Linked DNA regions of Homo sapiens. The protein of the gene in region 1 interacts with the protein of each later gene in a biochemical or structural test. Each region holds a gene or a part of one and is shown on either strand. Other genes may lie near its edges.

Region 1 (3,826 bases):
TCTGTCTGTCCGAGTGGGAGCTGCAAGTTAGTCCTGCCTCCTTCCTGCCATTTTTCTGCTCTAAAACTGCTCTTGGAACTCTGACTTGCTATGTGAATAAGCATGAGCTAGTCTGCTGGATGATGAAAGACACATGGCCCAGTTTGGCTCCACTGCTCCAGCTGACAGCCATCCAACTCCCAGAAGCAGAGATGCCTAATTTACTGTAGTTGACCACTGATGCAAATGGGTGAGCCCAGCCAAGAGCAGCAGCAGAACCATCCTGCTGAGCCCAGCACAGTTCATGGACCCTCAGAATCATAAGTTGAATAAATGATTATTGTTTTAAGCCATTAAATTTTGGTATTGTTTATTACACATTCAAAATTAAATGATGCAGTTAGCTTCATTATGTTTTAGTGTCAAGGTTACATTGTATATAAAGACTTGTGAAGGTTTTCTTATTTTTCTAAGTCTTGGAATTATTAGCTCTTTGATGATTTGAAAGAACTTTCCTATCCATCACCTAGGCTTGAAACTTTTGGGGGATAGGCAAGGTTTTTTTATTTCCTATTATTTTCTCACTACCTCTCTTGGTTATTAGTGTATTAATAGTAAAATAGGAATATAAGTCACATTTCTAAATGTGATTTCAAAAACTGACACAAGCTAACATCCAGCCTTATGCTTAATAGTGAAACATGAGAGGTAATGCAAAGTAAGAAGACCACTATCCCCGCCATTGCTGAACATCTCTTTTTTAGAAGTCCTAGTCAACATAACTGGGAAAAGAAAACAGAATTAGAAATCTGAGAAGTGAGGAGACAAAATAAGGAGATATGGCTGGATATAGTGGCTCATGCCTCTAATCCCAGCACTTTGGGAGGCCAAGGTGGGATGATCATTTGAGGCTAAGAGTTTGTCAGCCTGAGCAACACAGCAAGACCCTGTCTCTACAAAATACCAAAAAAAAGAAAAAATTTTGTGGGGCATGGTGATGCATGGCACGCCTGTAGTCCAGCTACTTGGGAAGCTGAGCTGGGAAAATTGCTTGAGCCCAGGAGTTCAAGGCTGCAGTGAGCTATGATCATGCCACTGACCTCTAGCCTGGGTGACAGAGTGACACCCTGTCTCTTAAAAAACAAATAACAAAGGAGACAAAATTATCATTTGTAAAAGATACATATGTATAAATATGTGTATAATTATAGACACTTTTTTTAAACCTAGAAGACTCAGGAATTAAAAATGATCAGAAATGATAAAATAAATAGTAAGCTTGGCAGTTACAAATTAAATTCCTAACTTTTTATACTCAACAATTTGCTAGGAAAATGGGGAGAAACAAGCCATTTATAACGCATTAAGTAAAAGAACGCATTAAGTAAAAGGAGAGAAATGCCCATTATCGGATGGAAATAAATATATGCCAAGTTCTTGGGTTAGAAATAAAACGTCAGACAGGTAAGCAGAAATGAAACCGACACAGGGGCTGGGACTCTCAACCACCTTTGCTTGCCTCTGGGCTGCGCTGAATGAGGTCAGAGAAAGCATCGGTGGAGGGAGTGCCCGGGGACATAGGACTTGAGACCACTGTCTCCCCAGACTGTATAAAACGGCAAGGAAATCCCCCCACCAAACAAAAACAACCTGAAGTCTTTTGAAAGGGAATTGGTTGCCAACGAAACACACAAGTGAAAATGACAGACGTCCCTATAGCAAAAGCCACAGTGCCCTGCCAATATCCCCCAGTCCTTACCCCTGTCCTACAAACATGCTCTACTTCCAGCTGCCACCGGCTATATTCCTTTGCCTGAGGGTCCCTCTGGTGGCAGGAGCCTGGCATGTGTAGCAGGCCAGGGGTGCTGCAGAAGTAATGTCCCCTGGAGCAGCTCTGAAGGAATGCTGGTGTCCACCCCAGCACCCTTGCCCCTCAGACAGGATGACCCTGAGGCCTGGCACGTTCTAAGCAGGCTCCTGAGTTCCCAGCGGGATTGTGCTCCAGTTGCCCATGGTGGATTCTCCTGGGACAATGTGCCCTTTCCTGGCTGCCCTCCTTTCCCTGTCTCATTTCCCCACTCCCCTACCAGAGGTGGGGATCATCTCCCAAATAAACTCTCTGCATTATAACATATTCCAAAATTACCTAAAATTTTAGAATACGGTAAAGATGATGTTTCAAATAAGTCAGTAATTCATCTCTCTGCCCCAAGCCTGCTACTTTCCCCATATTTCCCATCCAGTGACTGGCATCTCCATTTACTCAGAATGGAAGCCAGATGCAAGGAGGCTCCCAGGACATGCTCTGTGTCCCCTACCCTAAACCATTCTGGAAGATGCTCCAGACCCTACCTTCCCCCACCTGGATCACTGTGCACCCTCCACATCCACTCTTACCTGCCTTATGCTGCCGTTCCAGTCTCTCCTCTACATAAAACTCTTCACTGGTTTTCTCTCCTCTTAGAACAGGGCCTGACTACTTCCAAGGTCTGCAAAGCCCAGCGTGGTCTGGCCCCTGCCCTCCTTTCCAGCTCCGTCTCTGCCATGGGTACTCTTATTGTCTCCTCTCTGGCCATCCTGGTCTCCTTTCAGTCCCCTGTGCTTTTCCAGCCTCCTTCCTTACCAGGCCTCCCTGTCTGGAACACTTCCCCTCCTCCAAAGAGAACTCACACTTCAGGTCTCACCTGGTGACCTGACCCCTGGGACAATGTCCGTCCCTGCTCTTTCCACTCTCATGAACTATGTACCCTCCTGGTACACGGCACAATCACAATTGTAATTTTACATTTACTCATCTGCTTATTTGATTCATGTCTCTCATGCCAACAGCCCAGTTGAGCCTCCTGCTTCTACAGATGTGAGTTCAAATCCTGACTCTACCTTGATTCACGCTGGTGACCCTGGGTGAGTCACTTTACCTCTTGGTGTCTCTACCAAACAGGAAAGCAATGGCTACTCCACAGGGTGTTGTAAGGATTCAGTGACATACCGGGGGGAAAGCCCAGCCCAGATGTGAGCTCAGAGAAGGAGTAGCCAGCACCCCTGTTTTAATAGACATGAAAACCGAGGCTCAGAGAGTTTAGGTGGTCAGGCTGAGGTCACACAGCTGGCAACTCCATTTGCCTACCAGCTAGTTCTGCTCTCTATTCTCCCTGGAGGCCTTTAGAGGAGGCCACAGGCACATGGTCAGTGGGATAGGAAGCTCTGGCCTGGACTCCAGACTTTTAGGGTTGGTGGGACAAGATGGATGGAGATGCTTGTTCTCATTTTATCAAGGGGGAAGCAGAGGTTCAGAATGGTTAAGTTGCGGGAAGCAGAGGTTCAGAGTGGTTAAGTTGCTAGTAAATGCAGTTGGTTAGTAGAATTGGAAGGCAGCTAGCTTCCCAGTTTACAGATGGGCAACCTGAGCCCAGGAAAGACCTCTGTAAGAGTCTCTAGTTCCAGAGCTGGGCCTGGTTTCAGACCTTCAAAGTGTGTCCTTGGTTCCAGGACCACAAAGCCTCAGGGGATGGCCCAGAAAGAGAGGGAGGCTCACCTGCTTCTGTTCCTCTCCCAGGCTGTCCCACATGGAGGCCACGATTTTGGACACGTCACCGAAAGTGGCACTGGGGTTCTGACCCTTGATGGCGGCCTGAGTGTCTCTGAAGAAGAGTGCGTAGGCCGACACAGGCTTCTGCGGCTCATTGGGGTCCTTCTTTTTCTTCTTCTTCGGGTTCTTGGCCTTTTTTCCTGGGTCGGCTGAAGGTCTCTTTTCTCCCGAGATCTGCCCGAGTGAGAAGAGTCAGAAAACCAAAGAAGCCCAAGGGCCTCCTGCCAAAGGCGATCAACACAGACTTGGGCCGAGCTG
Region 2 (4,397 bases), on another chromosome or scaffold:
TGTGAGCTCAAAGAAACATTTCCTAACAGCAATAAAAATAAGCATTAGAGTTGAACAATGGACTGTGACTGTTTCCCAAAATAGCTGTTTTCTTGAGTCCGCAGAACAACAGGTACTGTATTAATGGGGATACAGTATTTGTTTCACAGCGTTGTTGTGAAGATAAACGGGATACCCCAGATAAACAGCTTGTGTCCCCCCCATCTTAACAACCCTCCTTTAGGCTGGCGGGCCACCTGCTCAAAAGCCTTCCCCAGGGGGGTTAAAACCGTCTTTTAGTAGTTCTGGTACGGGTGGGCTGGGGGAGATCCTCTAAAGCCAGTGCGACCTTGACCCCAGCCAATGTCCAGGCTCTTGACACATCCAGAGAATGAGTTCAAGGACAACTCAGAAAATAGTGACAATATGCAGATTTATTGCAAAGGGAAAAGTACACACCCAGGAAAAGGGATTGTGGAGAGGGTCACTCACAACGGGGCTTGGGGCTGCTACCTTTATGGGTTTCTTTAACCAAGGGGTGAAATATTCATGAAAATTCCTGGAAAAGTGTGGAGATTTTTCGGGACTGTGGTGCCACCCATTTTTACTTCAAATATGGGTGTCCCCGGAATTGTCATGGCACTGGTGTGACTTAGGATGTTAAAGAGCGTATAATGGAGGCCTAGGAGAAACCTAGGTCAAATCCAGGACCACGTCGGGTCCAGCCGGTCTTAGCCAGCTTGGTACACACCCTGGTTTTCAGGGTCTTATCAGCCCATAGCCTCCAGTCAAGTGAAACTGCTGCCTGGTATTTTTTATTCTCCTCTGACCAGCCTGCATTACTCCTGTCCCATGTTCAACACGAAATAGGGCCTCAGGAAATATTTACCAAATGAATGAATGGTTGCCTGTTCTAATTTTGTTTAACCACACTCTTGTCCTAAGCTTCTATGATGATACCCAGGGCCCCCGAGTTGTGCCAGTTCCACTACGGCGTGGATGCAAGGCGAGCGGCAGGGGAGCAGGTAAAGGATGAGTAAGGGAAGCCGGCGGATCCGACGCATTAGAGAACAAGAAAAAGAAATCCTTAGAGACTGGGGGCCAACAAAGAGCCAGGCGCGGGCGAACCCACCAGGGGGGCCCCGGAGCCCCACATCCGCCGCTGGGACGACCTCCCCGCCCAGCATGGTCCGGGGCGCGGACCCGGCCCCGCGCCAGGCGCCCCCGGCCCCGCACCCGGCGCCCTCCGCAGCTCCCGCCCCCGGGGCGGTGCCGGGAAAACGCGGCGCCTCCGCCGGTCACGTGGGGGCCGCTCCGGCGGGCGGCGCTGCCGCTTCCCAATCGCGCCCTCCCAGCGCCGGGGACGCGGCGCCCGCGCTCCCGCCCGAGCCCGGGGAAACGGAGACAAGGAGGCGCCGCCGCCCCCTCCCCGCGGCTGCGCCCCAGCCCTGCGCCCGCAGCATGCCCGCCGCCGGGCCGAGCGCCGCCCTCCCCCAGGAGCTCGAGGAGGCGACGCCGCTGCCGGCCGCGGGACCGCGGCTGCGAGGGTAGCGGGGCCGGAGCCGGGCCCCCCGAGGCGCCGCGCGGCGGGCGGAGAGGGAGGAGGAGCAGGCATCCTCCGCGGCGCGCGGGCGGCGGCCCTGCTGCCCGGCGCGCCCATGGCCCGGCCGCAGGGAGAATGCAAGCTGCTCTCCACGCGCTCGGCGTCCCCCGGAGCCGCTCGCGTCGCCGCCGCCCCCTAGCCGCCAGCGCTCGGCCGCTGGCTGCGCTAGGACCCGCGGCCGCCGGCCGCCGAGCGCGGGAGGGCAGGCAGGGGCAGGAGCCGGAGGGCCCGGGGCGCGGCGCGGCATGTAGCTGCGGGCTCCCGCGTCCGCGTGAGGCTGTCGGCCCGGGGCCCCGCCATGGCTGGGATGGACAGTGGCAACCTGAAGACCGCGAGGCTGTGGCGGGACGCCGCCCTGCGTGCCAGGAAGCTGCGGAGCAACCTGCGCCAGCTCACGCTTACCGCCGCCGGGGCCTGCCCCGGGGCCGGGGCCGACGCGCTCGAGTCCCCCGCCTCCCCCCAGCTCGTGCTGCCGGCCAACCTCGGGGACATTGAGGCACTGAACCTGGGGAACAACGGCCTGGAGGAGGTACCCGAGGGGCTGGGGTCGGCGCTGGGCAGCCTGCGCGTCCTGGTCCTGCGCAGGAACCGCTTCGCCCGGCTGCCCCCGGCGGTGGCCGAGCTCGGCCACCACCTCACCGAGCTGGACGTGAGCCACAACCGGCTGACCGCCCTGGGCGCGGAGGTGGTGAGTGCTCTGAGGGAGCTGCGGAAGCTCAACCTCAGCCACAACCAGCTGCCCGCCCTGCCCGCCCAGCTGGGCGCTCTCGCTCACCTGGAGGAGCTGGATGTCAGCTTTAACCGGCTGGCGCACCTGCCTGACTCCCTCTCCTGCCTCTCCCGCCTGCGCACCCTGGACGTGGATCACAACCAGCTCACTGCCTTCCCCCGGCAGCTGCTGCAGCTGGTGGCCCTGGAGGAGCTGGACGTGTCCAGCAACCGGCTGCGGGGCCTGCCTGAGGATATCAGTGCCCTGCGTGCCCTCAAGATCCTCTGGCTGAGTGGGGCCGAGCTTGGCACGCTGCCCGCCGGCTTCTGCGAGCTGGCCAGTTTGGAGAGCCTCATGCTAGACAACAACGGGCTGCAGGCTCTGCCCGCCCAGTTCAGCTGCCTGCAGCGGCTCAAAATGCTCAACCTCTCCTCCAACCTCTTCGAGGAGTTCCCTGCCGCGCTGCTGCCCCTGGCTGGTCTGGAGGAGCTCTACCTTAGTCGCAACCAGCTCACCTCGGTGCCATCCCTTATCTCGGGCCTGGGCCGGCTTCTCACCTTGTGGCTGGATAATAACCGCATCCGCTACCTGCCGGACTCCATCGTGGAGCTGACCGGCCTGGAGGAGCTCGTGCTGCAGGGGAACCAGATCGCGGTGCTGCCCGACCACTTTGGCCAGCTCTCCCGGGTGGGTTTGTGGAAGATCAAAGACAACCCACTGATCCAGCCCCCCTACGAGGTCTGCATGAAGGGGATCCCCTACATCGCAGCCTACCAGAAGGAACTGGCTCATTCCCAGCCGGCGGTGCAGCCCCGGCTCAAGCTGCTCCTGATGGGGCATAAGGCTGCAGGAAAGACTTTGCTGCGCCACTGCCTCACCGAGGAGAGAGTGGAGGGATGCCCAGGAGGAGGGGACAAGGAGAAGTGCTACCCACCGTCACCTCCCCCTGTGAGCAAGGGCATCGAGGTGACCAGCTGGACGGCCGATGCCTCCCGGGGCCTGCGGTTCATCGTGTATGACTTAGCTGGGGATGAAAGTTATGAGGTGATCCAGCCCTTCTTCCTGTCCCCAGGGGCCCTATACGTGCTGGTGGTCAACTTGGCCACCTATGAGCCTCGCCACTTTCCTACCACCGTGGGCTCCTTCTTGCATCGGGTCGGGGCGAGAGTGCCCCACGCGGTGGTGTGCATCGTGGGCACCCACGCAGACCTGTGCGGAGAGCGTGAGCTGGAGGAGAAATGTCTGGACATTCACCGCCAGATCGCCCTGCAGGAGAAGCACGACGCGGAGGGACTGAGCCGCTTGGCCAAGGTGGTGGACGAGGCACTGGCCCGGGACTTCGAGCTGCGCTCTGCCAGCCCCCACGCAGCCTACTATGGCGTTTCGGACAAGAACCTTCGACGGCGCAAGGCCCATTTTCAATACCTGCTCAACCACCGGCTGCAGATCCTCTCCCCCGTGTTGCCTGTTAGCTGCAGGGACCCGCGCCACTTACGACGCCTTCGGGACAAGTTGCTGTCAGTTGCTGAGCACCGAGAGATCTTCCCCAACTTACACAGAGTACTGCCTCGATCCTGGCAGGTGCTGGAGGAACTGCATTTCCAGCCACCTCAGGCCCAGCGACTGTGGCTAAGCTGGTGGGACTCGGCGCGCTTGGGCCTGCAGGCGGGTCTGACCGAGGACCGACTGCAGAGTGCCCTCTCCTACCTGCATGAGAGCGGCAAGCTACTCTACTTTGAGGACAGTCCGGCTCTCAAGGAGCACGTCTTCCACAACCTCACCCGCCTCATCGACATCCTCAATGTCTTCTTCCAGAGGGATCCCTCTTTGCTGCTGCATAAGCTGCTCCTAGGGACCAGTGGAGAGGGCAAGGCGGAGGGGGAAAGCTCCCCGCCCATGGCGCGGTCCACCCCCAGCCAGGAACTGCTCCGGGCCACCCAGCTCCATCAGTATGTGGAGGGCTTTCTGTTGCATGGGCTCTTGCCAGCTCATGTCATTCGGTTGCTGCTTAAGCCTCATGTCCAGGCCCAGCAGGACTTGCAGCTGTTGCTGGAGCTGCTGGAGAAGATGGGACTCTGTTACTGCCTCAATAAACCCAAGGGCAAG

The links.
Region 2: the proteins of TOX2 (region 1) and MFHAS1 form a complex in vitro, tested with the Homo sapiens proteins (one large-scale study listed by BioGRID and IntAct).

The regions. Positions count from the first base shown.
Region 1 is NC_000020.11:44,054,215-44,058,040, reverse strand, and holds part of TOX2 (TOX high mobility group box family member 2), read right to left. Parts: intron 3,743-3,826; coding exon 3,515-3,742; intron 1-3,514. UniProt on the Homo sapiens protein: Putative transcriptional activator involved in the hypothalamo-pituitary-gonadal system.
Region 2 is NC_000008.11:8,890,542-8,894,938, reverse strand, and holds the start of MFHAS1 (malignant fibrous histiocytoma-amplified sequence 1), read left to right. Parts: upstream 1-1,308; 5' UTR 1,309-1,880; coding exon 1,881-4,397. UniProt on the Homo sapiens protein: Probable GTP-binding protein. Functions in innate immunity and more specifically the inflammatory response as a regulator of the Toll-like receptor TLR2 and TLR4 signaling pathways.